7 linked regions of the Homo sapiens genome follow. The protein of the gene in region 4 interacts with the protein of the main gene of each other region in a pairwise test. Each region holds a gene or a part of one and is shown on either strand. Other genes may lie near its edges. The genes, in order: NEK6, DNASE1L1, MAVS, CDH1, CRELD2, EPCAM and TPX2.

Region 1 (4,389 bases), on a different chromosome or scaffold from region 4:
CCTCACCCCAGCTAATTGATGGGCCACCAAAGACATGCCATCAAGAAGCACGATGGCTCCGTGGCTGCGCATGTGGGTTCAGATCCTGCCTCACCGGTCTTTTTAACTTGCCTGTGTCTGTCTGTTCCTTATTGGTAAATGGGTGAGGGGAAGATTCAACTCAGGAAGTCTGAACATGAGCTGTTATTATCGTGAGGTGACGGCCTGTGGTCCTATGGGGTGGGCCCACGGAGGCCCCAGACTCACCCACTAGCGTTGACCTTGAACAGAAATAAGGGTCACATGATATTTAGTGAACACTGACTGAGCCAGGCCCCATCCATTGGCCACTTTGGATGGTGGTGGCAGTGTTAGCCTGGTGCCTTACCTTAATCCTTATGCTGATCCTGTGTGGAAGATTTAATATTATCCCCATTGTATAGGTGAGGAAACTGAGACTCAGGGAGGTTAGGTGACTCACCTAGGAACAGTGCAGAGAGTGTGTGAACATGTATCTACACTTTTGACCCTGCTGTGCCAGGAAACCTGTCCTTTCTTCCTCACCATTATCCACCAAGGAGATTATTAGTCCCATCTTCAAGGTGACGGAGCCGAGGAATAAGATATTCACACATTCCTAGTAACTGGTACAGCCCCATGCCAGACCCATGGGAGCTGTGTCCACGGCTCCCGCAGCCAGTGTAAAATGTTGACAGTAGAAGCCCAGGGTGTTAAGTCTGTTATATAAGGAGGAAACTGACCGGTCCTCCTGCCGTAGTTTCCTGTCATGGGAGCAGAGTGGCCACCACTGGTGGTATGGGGACGCCAGGCCTGCCACATCCTGCCCCTGTATCAGTTCCCATGTCTGGCACGGCACAGACCCTGTCCTGGGGACCTGCAGCAGAGGGCCTCCCACTGGAGCACCAAGTTGGGAGCTGAACAGGTGGAGATGTGCCAAGGGCCACGTGCCACTGGTTCCTACCTGGGGGTCCCACACTGGAGCTGCGTGGTGAAACCCCTTCTTCAGTGCAATCACCTACTTTCCCCTCTCCAAGTCACTTTTCCAGAAAGCTCCCTTTCTGCACCGTGTAAAGTGAGCCTAACCTCAGCCCCACAGCTGTGGTGTTTTGGAGCGGCCCTCATAAGCCTCGGTGGCCTCCTGGGGCTGGCGAGGCCTCCGGCTCCTGCAAACTCACCTTCTCGGAGTAGTGCTCCCCGGGGAGTGGGGGGTAGTCACACTGCTCGATCTTCTGGCACAGGGAGAAGAGATTCATCTTATCTCCATAGAAGGGGCTCTGGAGGGCTGCCATCTGCAAGGGACGGGAACAACGAAGATAAGCTTTCGGCCTCAAGGCTCAGAAGGACTAGAGAGGAGGAGGCTGCTCCAGATTGTTGGGGCATGGGTTCTCTCTGGTCCCGACCGCGGCGAGTCCAGCAGGACTTCTCCCCCGAATCACCGAGCATGCTGGGGTTCAACAGAGGAGCAGGCGCAACACTACCCTGATTCTGTCACTGGATTAAGTGGGCACGAGGGTTTCGGTGACAAAACTTTCAAGGCAATAAAGAAGGGCAGCTGGACGCTGCAAGCTAATTCCCACCTTGCTCCCACCTCAGCCCGGGGGACCCAGGCTCCATGTGGCAGGTTGCCGAGTGCATGGTCTTATTTCCATAAAACGCGATTTTTCCAAGATGCCTGCAGGGGCAGGTCTCTGTGCCCCACATGTTCAGAGAGCTTTCCTTACCTATGGACTGACATTTTGGGGTGGGGTGGGCCGGAGAAGGGTGAGGCATTTCACTGTGGCTGTTCTTGCCAGCCCCTCGCAGAGCTGCTGCCTGTGGAAGCCAGCTGCCGGTATCAGGGCAGGGGGAGCAGGGGGTTCAGGAGGGAGGGAGGCAGCCTCCTGCCCCTGGATAGAGGTGCGCAGCAGCATGTTGGAGGGAACCTTCAGGGTGGGAGGGAAGCGCCTGGCTCCACAGCCAGCCCTAGCTCTGTCCCGACCCCAGCTCTGCACTCGCTGTGTCTCTGGACTTCAGTTTCCTCATTTGTAAAATGTCCCCACCCACAGGCCTGTGGCGAGGCTTGGGCTGGCACACGGAGGAGGCACCACCAGCAGGGCCAAGACCGCCTTTGATGAGGTGAGGCCTGCGGCACCGGTTCTGCCCTGAAGGCCGGCCACAGCCACGGGGGAGCGAAAGGCCTGTGGGGCGGTGGCCTCCTGTGAGTTCTCAGCTGTCAGGGTGCTGCCAGGCTGCCCCACCACTCAGGGCACTCACAGGGGACTCCTCAAGGGGGTGTGCAGGGGCCACAGTGGCCCTGAGGCGGTGGCGCAGCAGCCCAGCGTGGCACCTGCTGGCCCCATTATGAACCCATAATGGGAAAGAGCTTCTCGTCACTCCAGCTCACTGTGGCTGCCTGCCTCCCGGACCGCCCCCCGAGGCCCAATGCCTCCGGCTAGTGAAGTGCCGTCGGGCGAGTGCCCTCCTGCTGTCTGGCCCCGGTTCCCCCCCGGAGGGGCCACCCTGCTCTGGCTTCTTGGCCAAGGGCTCCTGGGCGCCTACCGAGGGGCCCTGGGATACCTGGGGAACCGTCGCTTGTCCTCGCGCCCCAGAGGCTGAGCGGGGAGGAGTCCTTGGTAGCAGGGTTTGAGGGTGCCCGTCAGCTTGGGTTTCCTGGTCTTGCCCCATTCTGTGTTCGTCCATGAACAGGTCTGGTGACCCCAAGGGCCTGCCTCCTTCAGGAGGGCGTGGAGGAGCTTCAGAGCCTGGCACCATCCTTGGGTTTGCAGATGGCCTTTGGGGAAGCTGCTGAGTGCAGCCTGGAGACTGTGGGCTTTCCTCAGCCCCAGGTTCAGCACCCTCGGGACCAGGAGCCCAGGCCAGGCCAAGTGCCTTCAGGTGGGTGTTTAGGGACAGCATCACCTCTGTCTTCCGGCTGGCTGGGAGCTTGGGCCCCTCAGAGAAGGGCTGGGAACCCATGTGGAGCCTGAAACCCACCCTTGGAGGAGGGCTGCAGGGAGGGTCTGGCCAGGCAGGGGAAGTGTGAGGATGCAGAGGCCCTGCCCATTTTGGGGTCTGCTGACCTGACCAGGAGCGGGCTGGGAGCCTGCCAAATGCACCACCCAGGTGACGCATGTCCAGGAATTAAAATGAGACTCTCGGGTGCAAAGGGTTAATCGGGCATTTTCAAAGGACATCTGTTGCCATAACAGAGAGCAGCTGAGACTCCAGGACGGTCACCTGGGGTGATCTGGGTGCCCCCGAGTTGCAGCTGGAGGATTAAGGTGGATTTTCCTGGACTGTTACTGTGCAGCGTAGAAGGGACATTTTGAGTGTTGGTCCTGTGAACGCAGGCCCTGGTTTTTCATGTGGCTGACCCCGGAGAGGAATCAGCCGATCTTCAACTTCAGATCATGCCCATTTGATCTCAATTTTATAAACCTCGCTGCTGGGAACTCCAAAGGCCCCAGAACGCTGAGGGGAGCATTGAGCCCCCAAGCTGGCATCCACTTCCCATCATGTCTCTGCTCTTTCCAGCACTTTCTCCACATCGTTTCAGAAAAGCCTTTTGAATGGGGTCAGCAGTGAGCTATGCCAGAGGACCCCTCTCGGCCTTCCCCAGGAACAGGCCTCCTCCATCCGCCCCAGCCTGCCCCCACTCTGCTGCCGGCCATGGGCCTTCCACCCTCATCAGGGCAATGGGCTGTGAAGAAAGCTCTGGGCTGCGCGGATTACAACGATTACCCTGGACGGCGAGATCTCCTTCTACCAGTGACCACCCAGACTCTGACTGGTCGAAATAGAGAGGACTCACTGTCTGGGGCCTCGTTAGAACTGCCGAGGCCACGGCTCTCAGCGCTGCTCCTCAAATGCCAAGCCCTTCTCTCTGGTGTCATCAGGGTGACATATAGCCGAGGAAAAGGGGGTGGGTGGGCCCTGGCCCCCACCAGGAGGGCTCAGAGAAGCTGGTGTGTGATCTGAGATGTCAGAGGGACAAGGGGAATCTGACTCCTGCCTGTCAGGGCCTCAGACACCCATCTTGTCACCCAGTGTCTCTCGAGCACATCCCAGACAGAAGGGTGACTGGAGGCCAGGAGGTCTGCAGCCCTGCTCCTCCACCACGGAGGGGCGTCCAGGCCTCTCTGCCGTCCAAGCAGCATTCCAAAGCGGCGTCCCGGCCAAGGCTCCGCAGATCTTCCCCTTGAGTCCGCTGTCTCGCTGGGTCTCAGTCCCAGCTGGGCACCTCAAGGCTGCTGCGAGGAGGCCCCCTATGAGGATCCTGGGACTGGCACTGAATGAGCCAATTCCTCTAGCTCCGTAATTGCAGCTGAGCTCCCACATAGATAAAAATCAGTCCTGCAGAGCGGGCAGCCCGCTGGGCACCTCCATGGGCATCTAGGTAACGAGAACAGA
Region 2 (3,648 bases), on a different chromosome or scaffold from region 4:
TACCAAGCCCACCCTTCCCTTCCTACCATTGCTGGGCAAAGAGAACTGGGCCACAAATGGCTCCCGGGCAAAGACGTCATCCTCATCGTTGTACACGTAGGAACTCAGGACCTGTGTTTTGTGTGACCTGGGAGGACAAAGGGATGGGCAGCAGTGGCCCCACGTCTTTGATTTTGGCTTGCAAGTGCCAAACGGCGCTCAGGGAGGGGCCCTCCACTAACAGCGGCAATGTGGGCACAGCCCTCCCAACCTGTCTCTAGAACTTTCAAAAATCAGGCATAATTCATATGCCATAAAATTCACCTGCTTCAAGTATACAACACGGTTCTTTTGTACATTCATAAGGCTGTGCAACTATTTCTACAATCAATTTTAAAACATTGGTATCCATTACTCCTAATAAAAACATAACATCCATTACCAGTTACTCTCCATTCTCCCCTCCCCCCAGCCCCTGCAACCATTAATCTGTTCTCTATCTTGTACATTTGCCTATTCTGGATATTTCATATGAATGAAATCAGCTCATCAATGTTTTCTGCGTTCGTCCATATGCTGTGGCACGTCTGTGCTTCATTCCTCTTTCTGGCTGAATAATATTCCACGGACTGGGTATAGTACATTTTGACATTTGGACACTTTGATGTCATTCTTTTTTTTTTTTTTTTTTTTTTTGAGACATGGTCTCACTCTGTTGCTCAGGCTGCAGTGCACTGGCACAATCATAGCTCACTGCAGCCTTGAACTCTTGGGTTCAAGTGATCCTGCTGCTTCAGCCTCCCAAAGCGTTGGGATTACAGGCATGAGCCACTGTACCCTGCCTACCCAGTAATTTTGGAGCGCATACCAGATGTCATATCATTTTATTTATATAGAGAATCAGTTCTCCTTCCCTGCAGCCTCCCTTGCCCTCTGGATCCTGACTCCAAAGGGCTCCCTGCCAGCCTGTCCTCCCAGGGACTTAGAAGATCGGGTCTACCCAAGGCCCATAAGTGGTCCCCACGGAGCCTCTTCCCAGGAGCTGCAGCCCTTGCTGGCCACTTTCATAGAGGGGGCCAGCCACACCCTGAGCCCCAGCAGCTCCCACAGGAGAGAGGAGGAGGGACCCCACATTTGTGCTTATAGAAGGAAGGCCTCCTGCTCTATGGACACTCTGGCGGGGGTCGAGGATGGGAAGAGCCCAGAATAAAAGGTGTTGAGAAGAGAAAGCATGCAAAGCAGGTGAGGCTGTCCCAGGATGGGGGGCCTGTGGCCCCGGGGACTAATGAGCCTACCTCACATTAGGGCCAAGGACCGCCCCCCACCCTGCTGCGCTGCCAGCTCCGTGCTCACCGATAGAAGTACACATACGTCTCCATGTAGGTGCTGCGCCCCAGCTGGGGGCTGCTCAGGGTGCTGTAGGGCCCAGAGCCATCAAATCTGCCAAGAAAAGGGGAGGCGGGGTCAGGGCCTCAAGCCTCTGGGTGTGCCCCTGATTAGACCCACAGAATCTTCCTCACCGATTGAGTTCTCGAAGCAGGAGCGGGATGGCGCTGCCGGAAGAGTCCACCACCTCCTGCAGCACCATGATGTCACAGCGAGCCAGTATCTGTGGGACATCAGGAAGGCCAGCCTGACTCAGTGCCAACTGCCCTGAGAGGAGGCAGTGGGCCCAGGGGACTGGCACTGTTGTGGCCCAGAGTGTTAAGGCTCACTGACTGCAGCCCACAGAAAGCAGTGGGACTGGAAATGCCCCAGGAAAAGACTCATCCCACCCACATGTCACCTGTTTCACAGAGGAGGAGACTGAGGCCAGCAGCAGGCAAGCGCCTGCGCTGCATCTCCGTGCCACACCTCTTCTTCTCCCCTCTTCTCTAGAACATACCCCTGGTCAGGCAGGGATGGGGGCTTTGGCTCATGGTGGTTAGGGGCACGGCTTCCCTGAAGTGATGAACTTACCCGAACTAAGGTGTCCATCACCTGCTCCCTGGCCACCTTGGCCAGTGTCAGCCGCTGGGCATTGAAGGCGCAGATGCGAAAGGCCTGGGCCCCATTGGCCAGGATGAGGAAGAGGAGTGCAGTTGGGTAGTGCATGGCTGTGTGTGGCTGCCGGGGACACCCCAGGAATCCAGGCTGCCCCAGGGTGCGCTCTCACTGGGCTCAGTTCTGGCTCTGGAAGCGCTGAAATATGGAACAGAGAAAGTGGCACTAGCTGCTGCCCAGCACCAGCCTCCCAGTGACCTCCCGAGATCATACCACTGCACTCCAGCCTGGGTGACAGAGTGAGACTCTGTCTCCAAAAAAAAAAATTGTTTTTGAGACAGAGTCTTGCTCTGTGAAGATCAAGCCAAGATCGCACCACTGCACTCCAGCCTGGGCGACAATAAGACTCCGTCTCAAAAAAAAGTGAAATCCTACAGTATTTGTCTTTTTGTGACTGGCTCATTTCACTGAGCAAAATGTCCTCAAGGGTCATTCATGTTGGAGCATATGTCAGAATTTTTTTTTTTTTTTTGAGACGGAGTCTCACTCTGTCGCCCAGGCTGGAGTGCAGTGGCGCAAACGCGGCTCACTGCAAGCTCCGCCTCCTGGGTTCACGCCATTCTCCTGCCTCAGCCTCCCGAGTAGCTGGGACTACAGGTGCCTGCCACACGCCCGGCTAATTTTTTGTATTTTTAGTAGAGATGGGGTTTCACCATGTTAGCCAGAATGGTCTTGATCTCCTGACCTCGTGATCTGCCCGCCTCGGCCTCCCAAAATGCTGGGATTACAGGCGTGAGCCACCGCACCCGGCTGTAGAATTTCTTTCCTTTTCATGGCTGAATCATATTCCATTGTCTGGGCATCTGGGTAGACCACATTTTGTTCATTCATTCATTCATCCATCCATCTGGTTTTTTTTTTTTTTTTTTGAGACGGAGTTTCGCTCTTGCTGCCCGGGCTGGAGTGCAATGGTGCGATCTCGGCTTACTGCAACCTCTGCCTCCCAGGTTCAAGCGATTCTCCTGCCTCAGCCTCCCAAATAGCTGGGACTACAGGCACGCTCCACCACGCCCAGCTAATTTTGTATTTTTAGTAGAGATGGGGTTTCTTCATGTTGGTCAGGCTGGTCTCGAACTCCTGACCTCAGGTGAACTGCCCACCTTGGCCTCCCAAAGTGCTGGGATTACAGGTGTGAGCCACCGTGTCCTTTTTTTTTTTTTTTTTTTTTTTTAAATAGAGACAAGGTCTCACTATGTTGCCCAGGCTGGTCTTGAACTCCTGGGCTCAAGCAATTCTCCTGCCTCAGCCTGCTAAAGTGCTGGGATTGCAGGAATGAGCCCTGGTGCCCCAGCCTCATGCATCTCTTGACCTCGTGATCTGCCCGCCTCGGCCTCTCAAAGTGCTGGGATTACAGGCGTGAGCCAGAGCGCCCAGCCCCTGCTTTCAGTTCTTTTGGGTATATACCCAGAAGTGGAATTGCTGGATCATATGGTAGTTCTAGTTTTAATTTTCTGAGGAAGTGTCATATTGGTCTCCATGGTGACTGCACCATTTTACGTTCTCGCCAACAGTGCACAAGCGGTCAAGCTTATTCTTTTATTGTTTATTTATTTGGGACAAAGTCTTGCTCTGTCGCCCAGACTGGAGTGCAATGGTGCCATCACAGCTCACTGCAGCCTCCTGAAT
Region 3 (4,389 bases), on a different chromosome or scaffold from region 4:
AATTAGCCAGGCGTGGAGGCGCATGCCTGTAATCCCAGCTACTCGAGAGGCTGAGGCAGGAGAATTGCTTGAACCTGGGAAGTGAAGGTTGCCATGACCTGAGATTGCACCATTGCACTCCAGCCTGGGCAACAAGAGCGAGACTCCGTCTCAAAAAAAAAAAAAAAAAATAGAAGGAATCAGGGACTATAGGGAGGCTGAGGAAGGAGAACCACTTGAACCCGGGAGGCAGAGGTTGTGGTGAGCCGAAGTCATGCCACTGCACTCCAGCCTGGGCGACTGAGCAAGACTCTGTCTCAAAAAAAAAGGAATTGGGGGTTCTCCTCATGATTAAAGAGGCTTGGGTGCTCTTGGGTACACCCCCCGCCCCACCCATAGGTCCAAAAGCTGTTCTGATGTGGGCCCACTCCTCAAGAGTGACAAGCAGGGCTGGGCTTGGTGGCTCACGCCTGTAATCCCAGCACTTTGGGAGGCCGAGGCGGGTGGATCACGAGGTCAGGAGATCGAGACCATCCTGGCTAACACGGTGAAACCCCATCTCTACTAAAAAATACAAAAAGTTAGCCGGGCATGGTTGCAGGCGCCTGTAGTCCCAGCTACTCGGGAGGCTGAGGCAGGAGAATGGCGTGAACCCGGGAGGCGGAGCTTGCAGTGAGCTGAGATGGCACCACTGCACTCCAGCCTGGGCGACAGAGCGAAACTCCATTTCAAAAAAAAAAGGAGTGACAAGCATCACTTGGCAAGGGGGCAGGAGTGGGAGGGTGAGAGCAGATGGAGGACAAGGTAGCAAGGGAGGAAGGGGAGTATGGGGGGGCCTCGTGGGTCTCTAGTCACCCACGCCGTGTCAGCAGTCACTCTTCTCTGTCCCCAGGCATCCTAGGACCCAGTGGCTTTCTCCTCCACATGACTATCATTGCTCACTGACCCCTGCCCTGATGCTGCCACCTGAGCCCCTCCCCTTTGCCCCCACCCCTCATCAGGCCCTACCACAGCCATTGTATTCAGGGGATCACTATTTTTGGGTTTTTTTTTTTTGGAGACGGAGTCTCACTCTGTCATCCAGGCTGGAGTGCAGTGGCGCAATCTCGGCTCACTGCAACCTCCACCTCCCCGGTTCAAGCAATTCTCCTGCCTCAGCCTCCCAAGTAGCTGGGATTACAGGCTTGCACCACCATGCGCAGCTAATTTTTTTGTATTTTTGGTACAGACAGGGTTTCACCATATTGGCCAGGCTGGTCTCGAACTCCTGACCTTGTGATCCGCCCGCCTCGGCCTCCCAAAGTGCTGGGATTACAGGCGTGAGCCACCGTGCCCAGCCAGGGATCACTATTAATCTCCACACATGAAGAGACATATTTAAAAAGAAGGAAGGAAAAAAAGGAAGGAAGAGAGGAAGGGAGGGAGGGAGGGAGGAAAAGCAAGGAAGGGAAAAAGGAGAGAAAAGCAAGCATGAGAGCCAGACGCGGTGGCTCACACCTATGATCCCAGCACTCTGGGAGGCCGATCGCTTCAGCCCAGGAGTTTGAGACCAGCCTGGGCAACATAGTGAGATGTCATCTCTACAAAAAATTTAAAAATTAGCCAGGTGTAGTTGTCCATGCCTGTAGTCCCAGCTACTCTGGAGGCTGAGGTAGAAGGATCACTTGAGTCCAGGAGGTCAAGGCTGCAGTGAGCTATGATTGCACCACTGCACTGCAGCCTGGGTGGCGCAGCAAGACTCTGTCTCTAAAAGGAAAAAAAAAAAAGAGAGAGAAAGAAAAGAAAAACATGGATGTCCCACAGCTATAAATGTGACCAGGGTCTCGGGGGTTACCTCTAGTTTGAAATATAAATAGGGCTGGCTTGATTTTTTTTCCCATGTCTTTTTTTTTTTTTTTTTGAGATGGAATCCCACTCTGTCGCCCAGGCTGGAGTGCAGTGGCGCGATCTCAGCTCACTGCAACCTCTGCCTCCCTGGTTCAAGTGATTCTCCTGCCTCGGCCTCCTGAGTAGCTGGGACAACATGCCCGGCTAATTTTCTGTATTTTTAGTAGAGACGGGGTTTCACTGTTTTAGCCAGGGTGGTCTCCATCTCCTGACCTCATGATCCGCCTGCCTCGGCCTCCCAAAGTGCTGGGATTACAGGTGTGAAACACCGCGCCCAGCCTCCTCCCATGTCTTGATCTCACTCAGGATCAAACTCAATCTCATCAAATCGCCTCCGAGCACTCAGAGTGGCAGGGACACTGAGAGGGACTTAAAGAATAACTGGGCAGCTGATAGAGGGCGTCGAAGGCTCTCAGGGTAAACCAGGGGAGGGGAAGAGAAGGAGGAGAGAGGGAGGGTGAATGAGTAGGTGGGGGAGAAGAAATGAGGAAGGGTGGGAGGCGAATGCTACAGCCGTGAAAGTTAGGGGAGACTCCATGTGCTGGGCATACAGGAAGTGCCCAGCCCAGCTCAATACTCAACACGCATCGTCCCGCAGTATCACCCACTGCAGCTCCCCGCGGCAGATGCTGCCATGAGCTTCATTTTACAGAAGAGAGGCCTGAGGCTCAGGGAAATTAAGGGACTTGGCCAAAGGGACACAGCTGGTAAGTGGCTCAGCCTGGATCTACACCCAGGTTTATTCATCGCTTCACAGTGACAAGAAAGAGGATGACAGAGAAAGGCAGGAAGTACAGGGAGAGAGAAAAGGAGAGCGGAGGCCAGGGAGCAGGCTGGGGGTCCAGGAGGGCAAGGGCAGGACGCTCACGAGGCTGGTAGCTCTGGTAGACAGAGGCCACTTCGTCCGCGAGATCAACTAGCTCACAGCCCCTCAGTGCCGCAATGAAGTACTCCACCCAGCCGGGCCGCCGCTGAAGGGTATTGAAGAGATGCCAGAGGGTGTCCCGGTTCCCTGAGAGTGTGCAGGTGGCCCGCAGTCGATCCTGGAAGACACAATGCCACTGTCCTGCTCAAGCCAGGTGGCCCCTGCCACTTCCCCACCCAGAATGAAGCCACAGCGGGGGGAGGGGTGCCAAGAAAGCCACAAGGGCAAGGCAGCCACGTGAAACTGGATCGGAGCCCAGGACAGGGCCAGGTATGGAGTGAGGAAGAGCAATTAGCAGCCACATCAATAAAGGCAGCTGCCGGAAACTGGCAATTAACTATGTCCTGGGCTCTCCATTAAGGGCTTTGCATGTATCATCTTTATTTAATGCCATTATTATCTCCACTTTACTAATGAGGAAACTGAGGCTTAGCAGAAGCAAAGTACTGTAGCAAAGATCCTAAAACAGTGGGGCAGGAATCCAAACCCAGTTAATCTGATACAAAAGCCTTGGATTAATATGGCCCCCAGGGCAAAAAGAAAGGTTTGGATTAGGAGAGAAGGAAAAGGTAGATAGCAAAAGTATGATGAAAGGGGCAAAAGACGGAAAGAGAGGGGGCCGACAATAACAAACAAGGAAGCTGAGAATGCTGGGGAGATTGTGGGCAGATGACAGTGGCTGCAGAGTTTTTTTGTTTCTTTTTTTTTTTTTTTTTTCAGACGGAGTCCCACTCCGTCGCCCAGGCTGGAGTGCAGTGCCGTGATATCAGCTTACTGCAACCTCTGCCTCCTGAGTTCAAGCGATTCTCCTGCCTCAGCCTCCCGAGTAGCTGGGATTACAGGAGCCCACCACCACACCCGGCTAATTTTTTTGTATTTTTAGTAGAGACATGGTTTCGCCATGTTGGCCAGGCTGGTCTCGAACTCCTGACCTCAGGTGATCCACCCGCCTTGGCCTCCCAAAGCGCTGGGATTACAGGCGTGAGCCACCGTGCCCAGCCCTAGAGTTTTTATGTCTACCTGAATTCTCACATAAAAACAAGCAACCAGACAGCAGAAACAAAAACCCACAGAATCCTGCAGGAGCTAGATTTTTAGAAAAAGGAAAATAGCCAGGTGCGGTAGCTCACACCCGTAATCCCAGCACTTTGGAAGGCCGAGGATCACAAGGTCAGGAGTTCAAGACCAGCCTGACCAACATGGTGAAAGTCCGTCTCTACTAAAAACACAAAAATTAGCCGGGTGTGGTAGCATATACCTGTAATCCCAGCTACTCAGGAGGCTGAAGCAGGAGAATTGCTTGAACCCAGGAGGCAGAGGTTGACCCAAGATGGCACCACTGCAACTCCAGCCTGGAAGACACAGCGAGACTCCATCTCAAAAAAAAAAAAAAAAAAAATGCTGGGCGCAGTGGCTCACGCCTGTAATCCCAGCACTTTGGGAGGCCGAGGCGGGTGGATCATGAGGTCAGGAGATCGAGACAATCCTGGCTAACACAGTGAAACCCCGTCTCTATTAAAAATACAAAAAATTAGCCGGGCATGGTGGCAGGCGCCTGTAGTCCCATCTACTCAAGAGGCTGAGGCAGGAGAATGGCG
Region 4 (4,389 bases):
AAGGATACACAAGAGACTAATGAAATCTGTTCCCTGTGCCCCAGGGAAGAACTGGGTGAAGCGTGGTTTGGGGTGGGAAGGAGACTTCACTGTCTGCCATACAGACATATATACAAGCTTTTTCATATATATATGAAGATGTATATTTAAACTTATTTTTTAACCGGGTGAATAATTTGCCTATGAAAAGCCCAGAAAGAGAAAACCCTCCATGACCCACGGCCCAAGGCCCAGAGGTACCCTGGCCCAGCTGCCTCTGCAGCCTCATCCTGGGACCCTCTCCTCCCTCCTCTTTCTGTGCCCAGGAAGGCACAGCTCCAGCCTTCTGCCTCCATGACCCTGCCACACCTTTGGGTACCCCACTTCCTCCTCCTGGAGTGCCCTTTCCCTTTCCTTGCATGGAAGACACCCTCTTACTCATCAAGGCCCAGCAGGTGAAGCTGACCACTCCTGGCATCCCCTGAACACATTCTCATTCCAGTGGCATTCTTGGAGCCTACTGGAATTACCTGCTGAGAGGTCTCTCTTGGAGATTTTCTGGAATCTCCCTGAGTGTAGGGGGTGAGTCTTAGGCCTGGGTGCACTGGATACTTCTCTGGGTCCCCCACTCCCACACCCATCCACCCCACTTTGGTGTGTTTGTTTGTTTGTTTGTTGAGATGGAGTATCGCTCTGTTGCCCAGGCTAGAGTGCAATGGCACAATCTCCGCTCATTGCAACCTCCGCCACCCAGATTCAAGTGATTCTCCTGCCTCGGCCTCCCAAGTAGCTGGGATTACAGGCATGCACCACCACGCCCGGCTAGCTTTTTTTATATTTAGCAGAAACGGGGTTTCACCATATTGGCCAGGATGGTTTTAAACTCCTGACCTCAAGTGATCCTCCCACCTTGGCCTCCCAAAGTGCTGGGATTACAGGCATGAGCCACTGCACCCAGCCTCCCATCCACCCCTCCTTGCATCCATAGAGTTCTCAATCCTGGGCATGGCAGAAGCACCAGCCTATCCCTCCCTGATCAAGGGTGTGACCTGGGATCCCTGGCCTTGGGCTGGACAACCAGGTGCCCACATCCTGGCTGGGGTATTTACTCATCAAACATCTAGCCCCTGGGATTGTCCAGGGAAATGCATTGAGTGGCAGCAGATATCTGAGGAGCTTGCTTATTTATTTTATTTATTTAGAGATGGAGTCTCGCTCTGTTGCCCAGGCTAGGGTGCAGTGGCACAATCTCGGCTCACTGCATCCTCCACCTCCCGTGTTCAAGCAGTTCTTCTGCCTCAGCCTCCCAAGTAGCAGGGATTACAGGAGCATGCCACCACGCCCAGCTGAATTTTTGAATTTTTAGTAGAGATGGGGTTTCACCACGTTGGTCAAGCTAGTCTCAAACTCCTGACCTCATGATCTGCCCGCCTTGGCCTCCCAAAGTGCAGATTACAGGCGTAAGCCACCGCACCTGGCCTGAGGAGCTTTTAAAAACATCAAATTCAAGGCTGGGTGTGGTGGCTCACGCGTGCGATCCCAGCACTTTGGGAGGTTGAGGCAGGCAGATCACCTGAGGTCAGGAGCTTGAGACCAGACTGGCCAACATGGTGAAACCGTCTCTACAAAAATACAAAAAAAATTGCCAGGCGTAGTGGTGCATGCCTGTAATCCCAGCTACTTGGGAGGCTGAGGCATGAGAATTGCTTGAAGCCAGGAGGCGGAGGTTGCAGTGAACTGAGATCGTGTCATTGCACTCCAGCCTGGGTGACAGAGCAAGACTTCATCCCAAAAAATAAATAAGTAAGTAAATGTCAAGTTCAGATCTCCACCCTTGGAGATTGGCTCTCAGTGAATCTGCAAGAGGGCAAGTCTGCATGAAGTGCCCTAGGTGATTTGATTTTTAGCCACAAGGATCTCAGGGGCTGGGACAGAGCGTTTTTGGCAGCAGGAGAACAGACAGGTATTCTTAGGCATGTGCATCATGAAATATATATACATATATATATATATATACACATACATATATATACACATATATTACACATACATATATATATACATATATATATATATTTTTTTTTTTTTTTTTGAGACAGGATCTCTATCAGCTGGAGTGCCGTGGTGCAATCATGGCTTACTGCAGCCTCGACCTCCCGGGCTTCACGCAATCCCCCCACCTCAGCCTCCTGAGTAGTTGGGACTACATGCACATGCCACCACGCCCAGCAAATTTTTGCATTTTTTTGATGCTAGTACCACAGGTGCACGCCACCATACCTGGCTAAATTTTTTTTTTAATCTTTGTAGAGATGGGGGTCTCGCCACGTTGCCCAGGCTGGTCTCAAACTCCTGGGCTCAAGTAATCCTGCGGCCTTGGCCTCCCAAAGCACTGGGATTACAGGTGTGAGCCACAGCATCTATCTGGCCTGGATAACTTTTAAAAGCCAAGCAGAAGCTGACAAGTTCAAGATCATCCCGACTCCCCCGGCCCTAGCTGCGCCTTGCCCCACTCCTCCCACTCCAGTTCTACACAACCTCCACGAGCAGGTCCCCTTTCCTAAGCCACAACAAACCCGTTCCGGTCCACCCTGAGCACCCTGCACAGTGGCAAGCAAAAAAACGCCAGTTTCTTCCTAACAAGGCACTAGGCTTAGTCACTGTTTGCAGTGCACTGTTTGCTTAACACAGAAGCAGGCAGGGTGAAGAAACTGGTTTGGCTGGTTTGCTGGGTGAGAGGGAGCGCAGGGGATCTTTTGAACCAAACGTAAAACATGGGAGACTTTCAAACAGACAGCACCAAGTCCTCCTGGGGCTCTAATATTTCATATTCACTGAACGCTTGACATACCATCCTATGATGTCTCCATGCTATTATGCTCATTTTACAGAGAGGGAAACTAAGTCCTTGGCTGACATCCCTAGGCTGGGAAGTGACATTGTCTGGATTGAAATCTAGGCAGTCTGATTCAAGAACCTTCTGAATTTGGGGAAGATGCCACCCAAATCTTGGGCAGAAGTGGAGGATTGGAGGCAGGTAAGAGGAAGGAAGGAGGAAGATGAAAAGTGCAGAAAGGGAGGAGGCCTAAACCCCAGTCCCCCAAGAGTAACAAGAACAAGCTGGGACACTGAGATCCCTGGCCTAGGGAAACTTACATTAACAAAGAGGAAGAGAGAAAGAAAGGGAGATGGCTAGAGATGGGGATAGAGAGAGAAAGAGTGAGCATGCACCACAGATTTCTTTTTATTTGACCAAAGGTGGAAAACACTTAAAAATGGCTATATGCCCTCCCATTTCCAGACTCAGGTTTGAGATCTCCCTGCCTGCCCTGCACAGCTGTTCAGAGGGAAGCTATGAACACAGTATCCCCAGCACACACAGAGCATAATGGAAGGTTCTAACCCACCAAATTCTTCCCCGCCCATTTACAATCAACCTTAAGGGCTGGACCAAGTCCATAGAGTTTGAGAGGGAAAAATATTGGCCAAGATAGCGATTTATTCATGTGTTCATTCATTTGCTCAAAATAACATTGAGAGTTTACTGTGTCCCTAAGAAATATCAACTACTGTTGAAAATATTCTCTCTACTTTCTCTCTTTACATTCCTGCCCATTGGCATGTATGTTCCGTCCAATCTGCCGTAACCTCAGGGTCTAGCCTGGTGCTAACACACAACAGGCACTCACTTTTGTGAACTAAATGAATGTACATACTTAATTCTCATAATAGATCAATAAGTATTACCGCCCCATTTTACAGGTGGGGAAACTGAGACTCATAGAAGTAAAGTGACTTATTCAAAGTCAAATAGCTAGTGGCTAAAATTCAAACCTAGTTTCCTGTACTTCCTCGCTGAAGGATCCTAAACAGCCACTGCTGAATGATTTCATTCTCCTTTTTGAAAGCCTTGTGCCCTCAAAGGAGATAGAGCTGAGGCAGGATAGAAACCCAGGAAGGGGCCCGGCTCGGTGGCTCACGCCTGTAATCCCAGCACTTAGGGAGGCTGAGGCAGGTAGACCACTTTGAGCTCAGGAGTTCAAGACCAGCCTGACATCATGGTGAAACCCCGAATCTACTAAAAATACAAAAATTAGCTGGGCATGCTTCTGCGTGCCTATAATCCCAGCTACTCAGGAGGCTGAGGCTGGAGAATCACTTGAACATGGCAGGCGGGGGTTGCAGTGAGCTGAGATCCTACCTCTCTACACTCCAGCCTGAGCGACAGAGTGACACTCCGTCTCAAAAGAAAGAAAAGAAAAGAAAGAAAGAAAGAAAGAAAGAAAGAAAGAAAGAAAGAAAGAAAGAAAGAAAGAAAGAAAGAAAGAAAGAAAGAAAGAAAGAGACCCAGCAAGGATTGGATTGGGACAGGTGCCTCTCGGGGATTTTAGGGTTTGGGCAGCTTCTGGG
Region 5 (4,091 bases), on a different chromosome or scaffold from region 4:
CGGAGATGGGAGCAGACAGGGCGACGGGTCCTGCCGGTGCCACATGGGGTACCAGGGCCCGCTGTGCACTGACTGCATGGACGGCTACTTCAGCTCGCTCCGGAACGAGACCCACAGCATCTGCACAGGTACGGGCTACGCCTGGGCTGGCCCCGGGGTTGAGGCGGGATGACAAGAGCCCCTTGCTGGAGCTGCCTGCCTAGATGGGAACAGGGGCCTGTTGATCTTTAACCCCAGATGTCCAAGGAAGCTTCGAGGGCCCAGAAGGATGAATGAAAACATCAGAGGATAGAGGCAGAGGTTGTCGGGCACTTCCTGTCCCGTAACAGCCCTCAGAAGGGAGAAGCTACTCACCTTTCTCTCTAGTTCAAGGTCCACCCCGACCTTGAGTTGTGATGGGCCATGCAGTGCACAGGTCCTGGAGGTGCCGTGTGGGCCCCGCACCGGCCCAGAGAGCAGCATCTGTCAAATCCCTGCAGGCCGTTATGAGTGGCATCTTTCCAAAGGACGTTTTCTCCCTGGTTGTCACTGATATGTAGGAAAACTCTGAGTGTCTCGGACGTGAGTGTGTGGTTGGCCGGCAGCCCCTAGGCTATTCTGGGCAGACAGACCCGTGGATCGATAGTCAGGACCGGCCTCTCCGATTCTTACGCCCCTCAGCAGTCAGGACCGGCCTCTCCGATTCTTACCCGCCTTGCTGTCTGTCTCTTGGATGTTGGCGTGGCGTGGGCCACGCATGGATCCGTGGCCGGAACACGCACACCCAGCCAGGCTACAGCTCCAGAGTATGGATAGCTGCCTTCTCTCCAGGTTATTAAAAATTCCTTGGAGTCCTGGTTTGCTGAGAATTTTAAATTCATGGGCACTGAAAATCCCGTGTTGCTTTTCCCTCTTAAATTCCTCACTTTTAAACGAGCCTTGTCCCCAAGCTGGTACCTGAGAGTGGGGTTTGTACCCAGGCCCGCCTTTGCCTTCCAGCCTGTGACGAGTCCTGCAAGACGTGCTCGGGCCTGACCAACAGAGACTGCGGCGAGTGTGAAGTGGGCTGGGTGCTGGACGAGGGCGCCTGTGTGGGTGAGGAGCGGCCCGGGGGTGGAGGAGGGCGCCTGCGTGAGGCGTGGGGGGTGTGAGATGGGGGCGTAAGGCGTGGGGGGTGTGAGGCATGGGGGCGGGAGGCAGGGGGGCGTGAAGTGTGGGGGCGTGAGGTGGGGGCGTGAGGTGTGGGGCTTGGGGTGTGGGGGGCGTGAGGTGTGGGGGAGCATGAGGTGGGGCGTGAGGTGTGGGGGCGTGAGGTGGGGGCGTGAGGTGTGGGGGCACTCACTGTCTCACTCTCACACAATGTGTCGCCATCCTCATGGGGCGCCTGCCCCGGTTGGCACTGAGTGTCTAAGGACAGGGCCTGGCCATCGCCTCATCCCCTCCCCTGCCGCGTGGGGCCTCCGAGGATGGCATTTGAGATGATTCCTCCTCAGGGGCTGCCCTCCTCCCTGCCCTTCCCCAGCCGGCCCTGGCCACGGGCTGTGTCAGGCCATGATCGGTCCTTCCCCGCTCCCTGGCCGGGCTGTCCTGGGCCGCTCACAGCTGTGCCGCTCTGTTCCAGATGTGGACGAGTGTGCGGCCGAGCCGCCTCCCTGCAGCGCTGCGCAGTTCTGTAAGAACGCCAACGGCTCCTACACGTGCGAAGGTGGGCCAGGCGGGCGGGTCTGCACTCCGGGGCCTGCCGGGTTTCGTTGCTGCCTTTGTCAACATTCATTTATGGCTTCTTAGTGTCACTTCCATACATCCTGCCTGCCCTGAGAACACTTAGTGTGGCAAAGTAAGTCATAGGTATTTGCTGCAGGAAAATCAGAAAATTCAAGTCAGATGAAAAGAAAACAGTTAAAAACCCAGGAACTCCCTGGAGAGCGCACCCTGCTGGTGCCTCCACTGCTCGTGCCCCCCCAGCGCCCCCGCAACGTGCCCTGCGTGACTTTCCGCAGCGCCTGTCGGGTGTTTTCCACTCAGCAGCTTGTTGCGAACGTCTCTGCGTCCTGTGGTTTCTCTGTCACGCTAATGATTTTGGAGCCATTATTTCATACTTTTACAACAATGTCTGTTGCTGGACGTTTACGTCATAACAGTTTTTCAACTTATAAACTGTGAACACTTGAAGGTAAACTTTTCACATTCCTTATGATTTTCTGTGGATTAATTTCCAAATCGCTCAGTCAAGGGAATGTGTCTTTTAGAGCCATAGTGCCCCAGAAAAGTTGTGCTGATCCCCAGTCCCAGCAGCAGGGAGGAGGCCGCCTCTGCCCCGTGTGTGTGACAGCCCCAGGCAGTTTTCACTGTTGGGAGTGCAGACAGTGGGTCCCTCAGTGAGCCACTAATACTGGAAGCCATGCGAGAGGCTCTGGTTATTCTTAGGAAGCTCCTGGCAGGCTGGCAAACCAATGGTCACCGAGCTGGAGGTGGGTTTGTTTCTAGAATCTCTGTAGCACCCAGTTTCTCCCAAAGAGTTCCAAGCCAGGTGGTCTGCACCATGGCTCTCCGGGAGCACCTGCTGCACAGCAGGACGCGAGTCTGTGCTTTTGCCGGGAGACAGAGACAGATCGTTATAAAGTCACTTGGTGATGAATGAGGAGAAAACCCAAATCCTGGCGGCACCGGTGCCTTGTGCATGTCGGGGTCTGACGGGCACTGGTGCCTTGTGCATGTCGGGGTCTGACGCTGGCTCCCTGTTGCAGAGTGTGACTCCAGCTGTGTGGGCTGCACAGGGGAAGGCCCAGGAAACTGTAAAGAGTGTATCTCTGGCTACGCGAGGGAGCACGGACAGTGTGCAGGTCAGTGACGGGGTCTGTGCTGGACGCTGGTGGACCCTTCCCAAGTGACCATGATGTGAATGGCCCCAGCAGGTACTGCCAGGGATGGGAAGCAGTTGAGACCCGTCCTGCAGACGTGGCTCCCCCAGGGTCACTGTGCACTCGCCCTGAGGTCCACGTGAGACACAGAAGCAGTGGGGGTGGGGGACGGGCTCTGCATGGCCGACCCTGGTGTGGATGGCGCTGCTGCACCAGCCTCTCGCCGGTGGCCTCGTTCCCCAGGTCCACCGCCTCTGCTCTCCCTCCAGCTCCTGGGTGGCGATTGCCCCGAGGCTTAAGTCCAGGCCTGCCATGGTTGTGGGCTGCCTGGGTGAGCCTGGGCGTGGATGGAACCCGGTGGAGAAAGTGGGTTTCCTGGGCAGGCGCCATGGTTCATGCCTGTAATCCAGCACTTTGGGAGGCTGAGGCGGGGGGATCACGAGGTCAGGAGATCGAGACCATCCTGGCTAACACGGTGAAACCCCATCTCTACTAAAAATACAAAAAATTAGTCGGGCGTGGTGGCGGGCGCCTGTAGTCCCAGCTACTCGGGGGGCTGAGGCAGCAGAATGGCGTGAACCCGGGAGGCGGAGCTTGCAGTGAGAGGAGATCGCGCCACCGCACTCCAGCCTGGGCGACAGAGCGAGACTCCGCCTCAAAAAAAAAAAAAAAAGGAAAAGAAAGTGGGCTTCCTGGGCGCATGCTGGCCTTCCGGCCCCACCTGGAGGTCTCTTCTCTGCATTTTCTACCAGTTGAGGGCCCAACTTGGAGACGTGAAATTCTTCCCTCTCGAAGCCTTTCCTGATCTTTGCTCCTTTCTGTAACGTGACGTTTGTCATCGTTGTGCTTTCTTTATGTGAATGAATCTGAATGAATGAATTTCATAATCCGCTGCGCGTCTGCTGAGCAAAGTAATTATTAAAACGGAGTCTTTTCATTTTAGATGTGGACGAGTGCTCACTAGCAGAAAAAACCTGTGTGAGGAAAAACGAAAACTGCTACAATACTCCAGGGAGCTACGTCTGTGTGTGTCCTGACGGCTTCGAAGAAACGGAAGATGCCTGTGTGCCGCCGGCAGAGGCTGGTGAGTGGCACGGCTGCCCTCCACACAGGCTGCCCTCCCCTGGGCCGCAGGGCTTGCACGTAGACTGGCTGCTTGGTCTGAAATCCACACAGATGGTGGCCTTGAGATGGTGAGAGGGGGATTCCCGGAAGACAGGTGCATGACATCTCTGTGTGGGCACGCTTGCG
Region 6 (4,389 bases), on a different chromosome or scaffold from region 4:
AAAAAAAAAAAAAAAAAAAAAAAAAAAAAAGAAGAAGCCGGGCACAGTGGCTCATGCCTGTAATCCTAGCACTTTGAGAGGCCGAGGCAGGCGGATCACGAGGTGATGAGTTCGAGACCAGCCTGGCCAATATGGTGAAACCCTGTCTCTACCAAAAAATACAAAAATTAGCTGGACATGGTGGCTTCTGCATGTAGTCCCGGCTACTCGGGAGGGTGAGGCAGGAGAATCAATTGAACCCGGCAGGTGGAGGCTGCAGTGAGCCGAGATCATGACACTGCACTCCAGCCAGGGCAACACAGAGAGACTCCTTTTCTTTTTTTTTTTTTTTTCAGATGGAGTCTCGCTCTGTCACCCAGGCTGGAGTGCAGTGGTGCAATCTCGGCTCACTGCAAGCTCCGCCTCCCAGGTTCACGCCATTCTCCTGCCTCAGCCTCCCAAGTAGCTGGGATTACAGGTGCCCGCCACCACACCTGGCTAATTTTTTGTATTTTTAGTAGAGACAGGGTTTCACCGTGTTAGCCAGGATGGCCTCGATCTCCTGACCTCGTGACCCAGCTGCCTTGGCCTCCCAAAGTGCTGGGATTACAGCAGTGAGCCACCACGTCCGGCCAGCGAGACTCCATTCCAAAAAAAAAAAAGAAAGAAATTTAACAGTTTGGTGTGCATTCTTCCACATCCTCCTTTTCCACACTAATACAAATATCATATATAAACACATGCATCTAAGTTTTGGGGTCTAAAAATGGGACCATGCAGTATCATCACCACCTGTGCACAGCTTGTATCAACATCATAGCAACCATTCCAGATCCAAAGATAAAGATCGAACTCATTCACCATTCACATTATTCCCTATCGTAGATACAATAAACATAATTTACTCTCTTACTGATACACACTCAGGCTATTTTCCAGATTCACTTTTGTTGTTGTTTTTATTCATTTTTTGAGACAGAGTTTTGCTCTCGTTGCCCAGGCTGGAGTGCAATGACATGATCTCGGCTCACTACAACCTCTGCCTCCTGGGTTCAAGTGACTCTCCTGCCTCAGCCTCCTGAGTAGCCAGAATGACAGGCATGCACCACCATGCCTGGCTCATTTTGTATTTTTAGTAGAGACGGGGTTTCTCCGTGTTGGTCAGGCTGGTCTCGGACTCCCAGCCTCAGGTGATCTGCCCACCTCAGCCTCCCAAAGTGCTGGGATTATAGGCGTAAGCCACCACGCCTGGCCAGATTCACCTTTACAAGCAATGCTATGATACAATAACAATGTGCTTCCTTATTGCACTTGTGTTTTCATTTATTTCTACAGAACAATTAGACTTCCAGCATTAACCACTTGTGTTCATTTGCCATCTGAAATTTCTATTAACTGTCTATCCCTACCTGTTGTCATTCTTTCTTTAGGTTTCCTCATCAATTTGTAAGAACTCTTTGTATATTATGTATAATATCCATTTTTGCTTTATGCGCCATATTTTTTTCATGCCCATCGTTATTTTTTACTTTACAGTTTCTTTGCCATATAAAATGCTTAATTTTAATGAAGCCAAAATATATATATATAGGACTAGGTGCAATGGCTCATGCCTGTAATCCCAGCAGTTTGGGAGGCTAAGCCAAAAGAACTGCTTGAGCCTAGGAGTTCAAGCCCAGCCTCGGCAGCCATAGCAAGAATTCGTCTCTACTAAAAATTAAAAAATTAGCCAGGTATAGTGGCACATACCTGTAGTCCTTGCTACTTGGGAGGATAGGTCAGGAGGATTACTTAAGTCCAGGAATTGGAGGTTGCAGTGAGTTATGATCATGCTACTGCACTCCAGCCTGGGTGACACAGCAAGACCCTCTCTCAAAATATACATACACATATATGTATCTTTTCTTTCATGGATTCCAGATTTCTTGCCTTACATAATTTCCCCTACCACAAGGTTGTACAAACATTCCCTCAATTAATTTTCTTGGGAGTTTACTTTTTTGTATTTTTAAATATGTAAATGTCTTTGAAAATGGATACACTGCCCAACGCCTTTCCTACTACTGTGCTCTGGACATGCCACCCTCACACAGCTGGGCAATATGGCCAGCCTGGTGGAGTGAAATAGGAATTCAACTTTCATTTTGTTCCAGATGGATAGCCAAACATGGTTGATTGAACTGGAAATCTAAGTTCCTAAATACCCTCAAACCTCTTTCTGAATTCTGTTGTGTTAGTAAGATTTCTTTTTTTTTTTTTTTTTTTTGAGACGGAGTTTCACTCTTGTTGCTCAGGCTGGAGTGCAATGGCATGATCTCAGCTGCAACCTCCACCTCCTGGGTTCAAGTGATTCTCCTGCCTCAGCCTCCTGAGTAGCTGGGATTACAGGCATGAGACACCATGCCCGGATAATTTTGTATTTTTAGTAGAGATGGGGTTTCTCCACGTTGGTCAGGCTGGTCTCGAACTCCCGACCTCGGGTGATCCACCCGCCTCAGCCTCCCAAAGTGCTGGGATTACAGGCATGAGCCACTGTGCCTGGCCTTTTTTTTTTTTTTTTTTTTTTTTTTTTTGAGACAGAGTCTTGCTCTGTCACCCAGATTAGAGTGCAGTGGCATGATCTTGGCGCACTACAACCTCTGCTTCCCAGGTTCAAGCTATTCTCCTGCCTCAGCCTCCCGAATAGATTACAGGCATGTGCCACCACGCCCAGCTAATTTTTTTGTATGTTCAGTAGAGACAGGGTTTCACCATGTTGGCCAGGCTGGTCTCGAACTTCTGATCTCAAGTGATCTACCCGCCTCAGCCTTCCAAAGTGCTGCGATTACAGGCCTGAGCCATCACACCTGGCCAGTGTTAGTAAGATTTCTTGATACCGAAGCATCCTTACATTCCTAAAATAAACCTTTCACTTCTTCAAGCAATACATTCTTTTGCTGAAGCACTGTTAAATTCAATTTGCTCATCTTTACTTGGAAGTATTGATTCACATATCACTTTTAACTCTTTTGTATGGCTAACGTTAACTTTGTGTTCTGTTGTTCCATCTTATTGAGTGGTTTGGGGGTTCAGGTATTTTGCACTAGGTGTTGAATTGTTTGCAGTGACAACTGAAAGACGCTTGCTGCTAGATGGCAATTTAACTGGCCTGTGAGGTGCACAGCCACAAGCTTTTTAATATTAGCATCCTTTCTTGCTTCATAAAATGACTTTTGTAAAAAGAGACCAGAGATACAATAGATTCATTCACCATAAAAAAATTATTTAAAAATGAAGATTTTTTTCCCTGAATGTTTTGGAATATGGATGTTACTTTTTCATATTTCCTTTTTTCTTCTTTTTGAGACAGGGTCCTGCTGTGTTGCCCAGGCTGGAGTGCAGTGGTGTGATCATGGCTCACTGCAGCTTTGACCTCCTGGACTCAACTGACCACTCCCACATCAGCCTCCTAAGTAGATGGGACCACAGGTGCAAGCCATCACATCTGACTAATTTTTGTATTTTTACTACAGATAAGGTTTCACCATGTTGCCCAGTGTGGTCTCAAACTCCTGGGCTCAAGTGATCCACCTGTCTCAGCCTCCCAAAGTGTAGGGATAACAGGTGTGGTGAGCCACCGCGCCCAGCCACTATTACTTTTTCTTGAAAAAATATACCCTTAAATGAAATTTTACTTGTTCTGTACTCACCAGCACAACAATTCCAGCAACAACTGCTATCACCACAACCACAATAACAGCAATAACACCAGCTTTTAGACCCTGCATTGAGAATTCAGGTGCTTTTTCATCAACATAATAAATTAAAGTTTGACCAGGATCCAGATCCAGTTGTTCCCCATTTACTGTCAGGTCCATTTTCTTAGAATGAAACAAGGATTCACCTTTAACCTGTATTGAAAAGGAGAAAAGGAATTAAAAATATTTAAGGAAACCAACCATGGCCACATATAATTACATACAAATTGTATGCCAAAAGAACCGCTGCCAAGAATCTTTATGGTTTTAGTGATAACAATCTAATTTATTGGAACTTTAAAAAACTGTTTATTACAGGAACCTTTCAACATACACGAAAGTAGAAAGAGTAGTGCAATGATGCCCATGTACCTATCACCCAGATGCAAGGCCAACAACACATAGCCTCTCTTACTTCATCTTTTCTTCCTTTCATCCTTTCACCCCCGCCCAGATTATTTTGAAGCAAACCTCATATTTCAGCAGAAAATACCTCACTATAATATATTAAAGTTTCAACAAAATATTTTAATCATATCAGTTACAGTCTTTTTTAACAGACTTTTATTTGTGTAAATTATAAATATCATAGGGGAGCATATATGCACAAACTAAGTAACCACCAAGTAGATAATAAATAAGAATTATAAGAAAGAGGGGAGATATTTTAGGC
Region 7 (4,389 bases), on a different chromosome or scaffold from region 4:
TGAGCCATGATCACGCCACTGCACTCCAGCCTGGGTGACGGAGCAAGACCCTGTCTCTAAAAAGCAAAACAAGAAGGAAAATAAATAAATAAATAAATAACAAAAGAAGACCAAGTGAAAACTCCCAATTTTATGAAATCAATATAAAAGCATCAAGACCACATCTTACAGAAAATCAAATGGAGAAAGTTAAAAACTATGTTAAAGCATCAATATTAAGACATCACCACCACTCATTGAAAATATTAATTTACCTGGCCAGTGAAACCTTGTCAATTTTCATAACTAATATAGAATGAATCTTTCAATTTAGGTCTTGTCACATAACAGTGGTAGATCAAAACCAAATCTATTTTAGAAATAAGCCATGTTTCAAAGATACATGTAACCATTATTTAGCTGTAACTGTACAAAGTTTTAAATAAAAATTGCATAATATAATTTCTCTTTCCTTTTGCCAGGACTAGTATTCTGAAAGCAGGACATATCAGACTCTGAGTCATATATTATTTGAAAAGTTATGCTTAATATTTAAATTTCCATTAGAATAAAGAAGAATATTTCATTATTTTCATACTATAAAATCTAACAAAATCATTTTGGCCACTAGAACATAATAATAATATTAAAAAATGCTGTACTTGGCCAGGCGCAGTGGCTCACACCTGTAATCACAGCACTTTGGGAGGTTGAGGCGGGCGGATCACTTGAGGCCAGGAGTTCAAGACCAGCCTGGCCAACAGAGCAAAACTTGGTCTCTACTTAAAATCCAAAAAGTAGCTGGGCATGGTGGCACACACCTGTAATCCCAGCTACTCGGGAAGCTGAGGCACGAGAATCTCTTGCACCCAAGAGGTGGACGTTGCAGTGAGTCGAGATCGCGCCACTGCACTCCAGCCTGGGTGATGACACCCAGAACGAGACTCTGTCTCAAAAAAAATGCCTATGCAAGGATATAAAAAATTTAGAGATCCTCAAAGGTAAAACAACCACATTCTGCTTTATCCAGAATACTATCCCTATACTCCCAACAACTATTTAATACCACCTCCACCCTTCAGATTTCATCTTCCTTCTTGCAGAAATTATTTCCATAAAGATAGAAACTATTACATTAGAATCCGCTCATCTGCTCACCACCAAATCTACAAACTCCCCCAGTATTTGCACCCATTCCTCCCACTCTTCCATCCTCCTTTTAAAGAACACTCACTCCACCTGTGCTAAGTATCCCTCCAATACCTGCCTGCTCAGGGACTTAATCCATTAGTTATCTCCTCTCTCTCGTACCTTCAGCTTCTTTATCTCTGACGAGACTTCTCAACATTCAGACATGCTCTCCCTATCTCCCACCTCCTTTGACTCTTGCACCTCCCTCCTCCTCAAAATCCCCTGCCATAATTTGTAGTGACCTGTTTATCTAATGACAGTTTAAGAATGCAAAGAACTAATTAGTGTATCTCTAATGACAGAGATAAATAGGTCACTACAAATTATGGTAAAGGCTTTTGAAACTTGATGTCGAGTTTTGAAACTTGAATTAGAAACCTGATGTTGAGTAGCACCAAGTCTATTTTATTTACCTCTATATACCTAACACAGTGTGCCTGGTTAGTAGTAGTAAAAATTTTGGTGGACCACTGAATAAAAAGCACATAGCCTTGAATGAATGAAATGCCTTCATTTTCTATAGGTAACTAAATGCAATGTGACACTTTGACACATGGCAAAAAAATGTCCGTTAAGGATGTGTAATGACATCTCAGGTTACCTTAACTCATTCCCCTTGGCCAATTATTGATGAGGAGGATCAAGACGGTTGATGGGTATAAGACAGACAGCTGGGTGGTTTGAAAAATTCTGAAGGATACATTTGTTGTCTGCATAGTCACACGCCATACTTTAATTGAAAAACTAGGATTTCAGCTAAAGACAAATCTGTGCCTAAGATGTAAGCAGAGGGAATGTAGGAGAGGTTCCATCCAACTGTGATACTGGTAGGAAACTTACTAATATCATCCTTCTTGCTCCTCAAATGATATCTGTTAGGGGTTCGTTTATGGAAGTCTTCAACTTGCTGTGCAAGGGGCACATATGTAGAAACTGTTTCATCAAATGTTCTTTTCTTTCCTTGGGACAGGTTGAAAGGCTTAACAATGGTACATCCCTTAGTCACTCGGGCCTGTAAAGAGAAAAGTTGTTCCCCAAATGAAATGTCACGGAAGAGCTCACATCTACCATAAGCCACATATTCGGCACAGAGGATCAATAAAAAAGGCCTGTGTAAAACCAAGATTATTATTCTGAAGTTTGTCAGTCCTTGAGCAAGGGTTATAACTAATCTGTTCTCATTAAAAAAAATTAAAAATGGAAGAAAGGATCTAGCACTTAACAAATCTTATGTTCTGGAATAGTACATAGGTAATTTCCCCCCAACCATGTCAATGTTTTGAAGGAATCCAGAGTAAGCTATCTTAGAATTGAAGACAAAAAGCACTGCAAAGAAATCTCACCCTCAACTCCACTTTAAAAAAAAAAATTGATTGGGCCTCTGGGTATGCATCAGGTCAGGCAGCTTCCTGAATCAGTGGAATCTCTCCATACATCCCCTAAAGAGACTGATGAAGAAGCCTATTCCTATTCCTTGGACCAGTAATTTTGATAAAACTGGTCTCTAATTGGAAGCAAAACCCTTCAAGGACCTGTATCTCAAAGAAAGAAGCATAACCTCAGGGTTTAAGAATGCAAATAACTAATTTCAAAAAATGATGATACTGACTACAAATGCAAGTGGAGATTATTAGTACTAGCATTTTTACTTAACGATTATTACTGATTTTGTTGGTGCTCTGGTAACAAAACTGCATGAGATTTGACTGGTCTGCCCCAACCCTATTTTTCCTATAAGATCTGTTATATTGGCCAGGCATGATGGCTCACACTTGTAATCCCAGCACTTTGGGAGGCTGAGGCAGGTGGATCGCCTGAGGTCAGGAGTTTGAGACCAGCCTGGCTAACATGGGGATACCCTGTCTCTACAAAATACAAAAATTAGCTGGGAGTGGTGGCAGGCGCCTGTAATCTCAGCTACTTGGGAGGCTGAGGCAGGAGAATTACTTGAACCCGGGAGGCGGAGGTTACAGTGAGCCGAAATCGTGCCATTGCACTCCAGCCTGGGCGACAAAAGTGAAACTCCATCTCAAAAAAAAAAAAAGATCTGTTATATTTTACACAACTTTATAGACACAAGGTTTTTTTTCTCAATTATACTATTATAAACAGTGACCACAAATGCTACACGTAAAATCCTAAATGAATATTAGTAACAGAAATGTTCATTTAGTCCATCAACTTACAGGAGATGAAGGATGCTTTCGTAGTTCAGATGTAAAGTTCACTTCCTTATATTCCTCCTGGTTCTTAGGATGTTGTTTGATTCGCTCATCTGTGCGGAAGTGGAAGTCAACTGATTTGGTGACCTGGCTCACTGATTTCTTCACAGGTTGCCCTGAGAGATGAACACAGTAAAACATACAGACAACATTAAGATAGGGAACACCAGTAAATCCCCTTTACTCCAGTCCTTTTGCTATTTCTGTCACCATGGATCTAACTTTGCTTACTATCTACCTGTAACCCAAAACTTGAAGTAGTCCTCAGGGACACTAATATATGTGTCATATTCACTGAGTACTATTAGGTTTGAGGCCTTTCAGTCAGATGCAAACTAAAAAAAAGTAGTAGCACAGGGTAGAAGAATCCCATCTCCTAGGTGTGGTCATAGCTATGGAGAAAAAGAATAACTGGAATACTTTTGATAAGAAAAGCTATGGATTGACTTTGAAAGCACAGTTAACTCAGCATCTCTAAGAGGAAAATCCTATAAACTCCAGGGGTGCTTTTTCAATCCAGTAAGGAGAACTTTATAGTTATGACTCCACCAATAACAACTCTATGCCCGAGCAAAGCAGAACTGTGACCCCTTCAGCTCTCTCAGTCATATTTTTCCTCCACAGGTGAATTGGATTTGACTGTTTTCTTTTCCTTTGCCTTTAGAAAAAAATAGGAAAACAACAAACTGGTCTGCCCAATTACTTTATCTTCTGTCTCAATCCAAGTTCCTTTTTTTCCCTAAGACCAAGAACAGACTTTTAAGAAAGTACCAGTGAGCCAGGCACGGTGGCTCATGCCTGTAATCCCAGCACTCTGGGAGGCTGAGGTGGGCGGATCACCTGACGCCAGGAGCTCGAGACCAGCCTGGCCAACATGATGAAATCCCATCTCTACTAAAACTACAAAGAACTAGCCAGACGTGGTGGTGGACCCCTGTAATCCCAGCTACTCAGGAGGCTGAAACAGGAGAATTGCTTGAACCCGGGAGGCAGAGGT

What was found.
Region 1: the proteins of CDH1 (region 4) and NEK6 interact in binary tests that used the Homo sapiens proteins (3 or more experiments, as listed by UniProt).
Region 2: the proteins of CDH1 (region 4) and DNASE1L1 interact in binary tests that used the Homo sapiens proteins (3 or more experiments, as listed by UniProt).
Region 3: the proteins of CDH1 (region 4) and MAVS interact in binary tests that used the Homo sapiens proteins (3 or more experiments, as listed by UniProt).
Region 5: the proteins of CDH1 (region 4) and CRELD2 interact in binary tests that used the Homo sapiens proteins (3 or more experiments, as listed by UniProt).
Region 6: the proteins of CDH1 (region 4) and EPCAM interact in binary tests that used the Homo sapiens proteins (3 or more experiments, as listed by UniProt).
Region 7: the proteins of CDH1 (region 4) and TPX2 interact in binary tests that used the Homo sapiens proteins (3 or more experiments, as listed by UniProt).

What each region holds. Positions count from the first base shown.
Region 1 is NC_000009.12:124,344,609-124,348,997, reverse strand, and holds part of NEK6 (serine/threonine-protein kinase Nek6), read right to left. Parts: exon of another isoform or gene 1,296-4,389; intron 1,290-1,295; coding exon 1,176-1,289; intron 1-1,175. UniProt on the Homo sapiens protein: Protein kinase which plays an important role in mitotic cell cycle progression. Required for chromosome segregation at metaphase-anaphase transition, robust mitotic spindle formation and cytokinesis.
Region 2 is NC_000023.11:154,403,496-154,407,143, forward strand, and holds part of DNASE1L1 (deoxyribonuclease-1-like 1 precursor), read right to left. Parts: intron 2,161-3,648; 5' UTR 2,074-2,160; coding exon 1,939-2,073; intron 1,589-1,938; coding exon 1,500-1,588; intron 1,420-1,499; coding exon 1,333-1,419; intron 128-1,332; coding exon 27-127; intron 1-26.
Region 3 is NC_000020.11:3,856,155-3,860,543, reverse strand, and holds part of MAVS (mitochondrial antiviral-signaling protein), read right to left. Parts: intron 2,910-4,389; coding exon 2,735-2,909; intron 1,726-2,734; exon of another isoform or gene 1,602-1,725; intron 1-1,601.
Region 4 is NC_000016.10:68,743,216-68,747,604, reverse strand, and holds part of CDH1 (cadherin-1 isoform 1 preproprotein), read right to left. Parts: intron 1-4,389.
Region 5 is NC_000022.11:49,921,634-49,925,724, forward strand, and holds part of CRELD2 (protein disulfide isomerase CRELD2 isoform b precursor), read left to right. Parts: coding exon 1-128; intron 129-237; coding exon of another isoform or gene 238-272; exon of another isoform or gene 273-361; intron 362-660; coding exon of another isoform or gene 661-810; intron 811-978; coding exon 979-1,074; intron 1,075-1,600; coding exon 1,601-1,684; exon of another isoform or gene 1,685-1,827; intron 1,828-2,726; coding exon 2,727-2,822; intron 2,823-3,783; coding exon 3,784-3,924; coding exon of another isoform or gene 3,925-4,037; exon of another isoform or gene 4,038-4,091. UniProt on the Homo sapiens protein: Protein disulfide isomerase. Might play a role in the unfolded protein response. May regulate transport of alpha4-beta2 neuronal acetylcholine receptor.
Region 6 is NC_000002.12:47,379,249-47,383,637, reverse strand, and holds part of EPCAM (epithelial cell adhesion molecule precursor), read right to left. Parts: intron 3,870-4,389; coding exon 3,669-3,869; intron 1-3,668.
Region 7 is NC_000020.11:31,776,606-31,780,994, reverse strand, and holds part of TPX2 (targeting protein for Xklp2), read right to left. Parts: intron 3,509-4,389; coding exon 3,357-3,508; intron 2,183-3,356; coding exon 2,011-2,182; intron 1-2,010. UniProt on the Homo sapiens protein: Spindle assembly factor required for normal assembly of mitotic spindles. Required for normal assembly of microtubules during apoptosis. Required for chromatin and/or kinetochore dependent microtubule nucleation.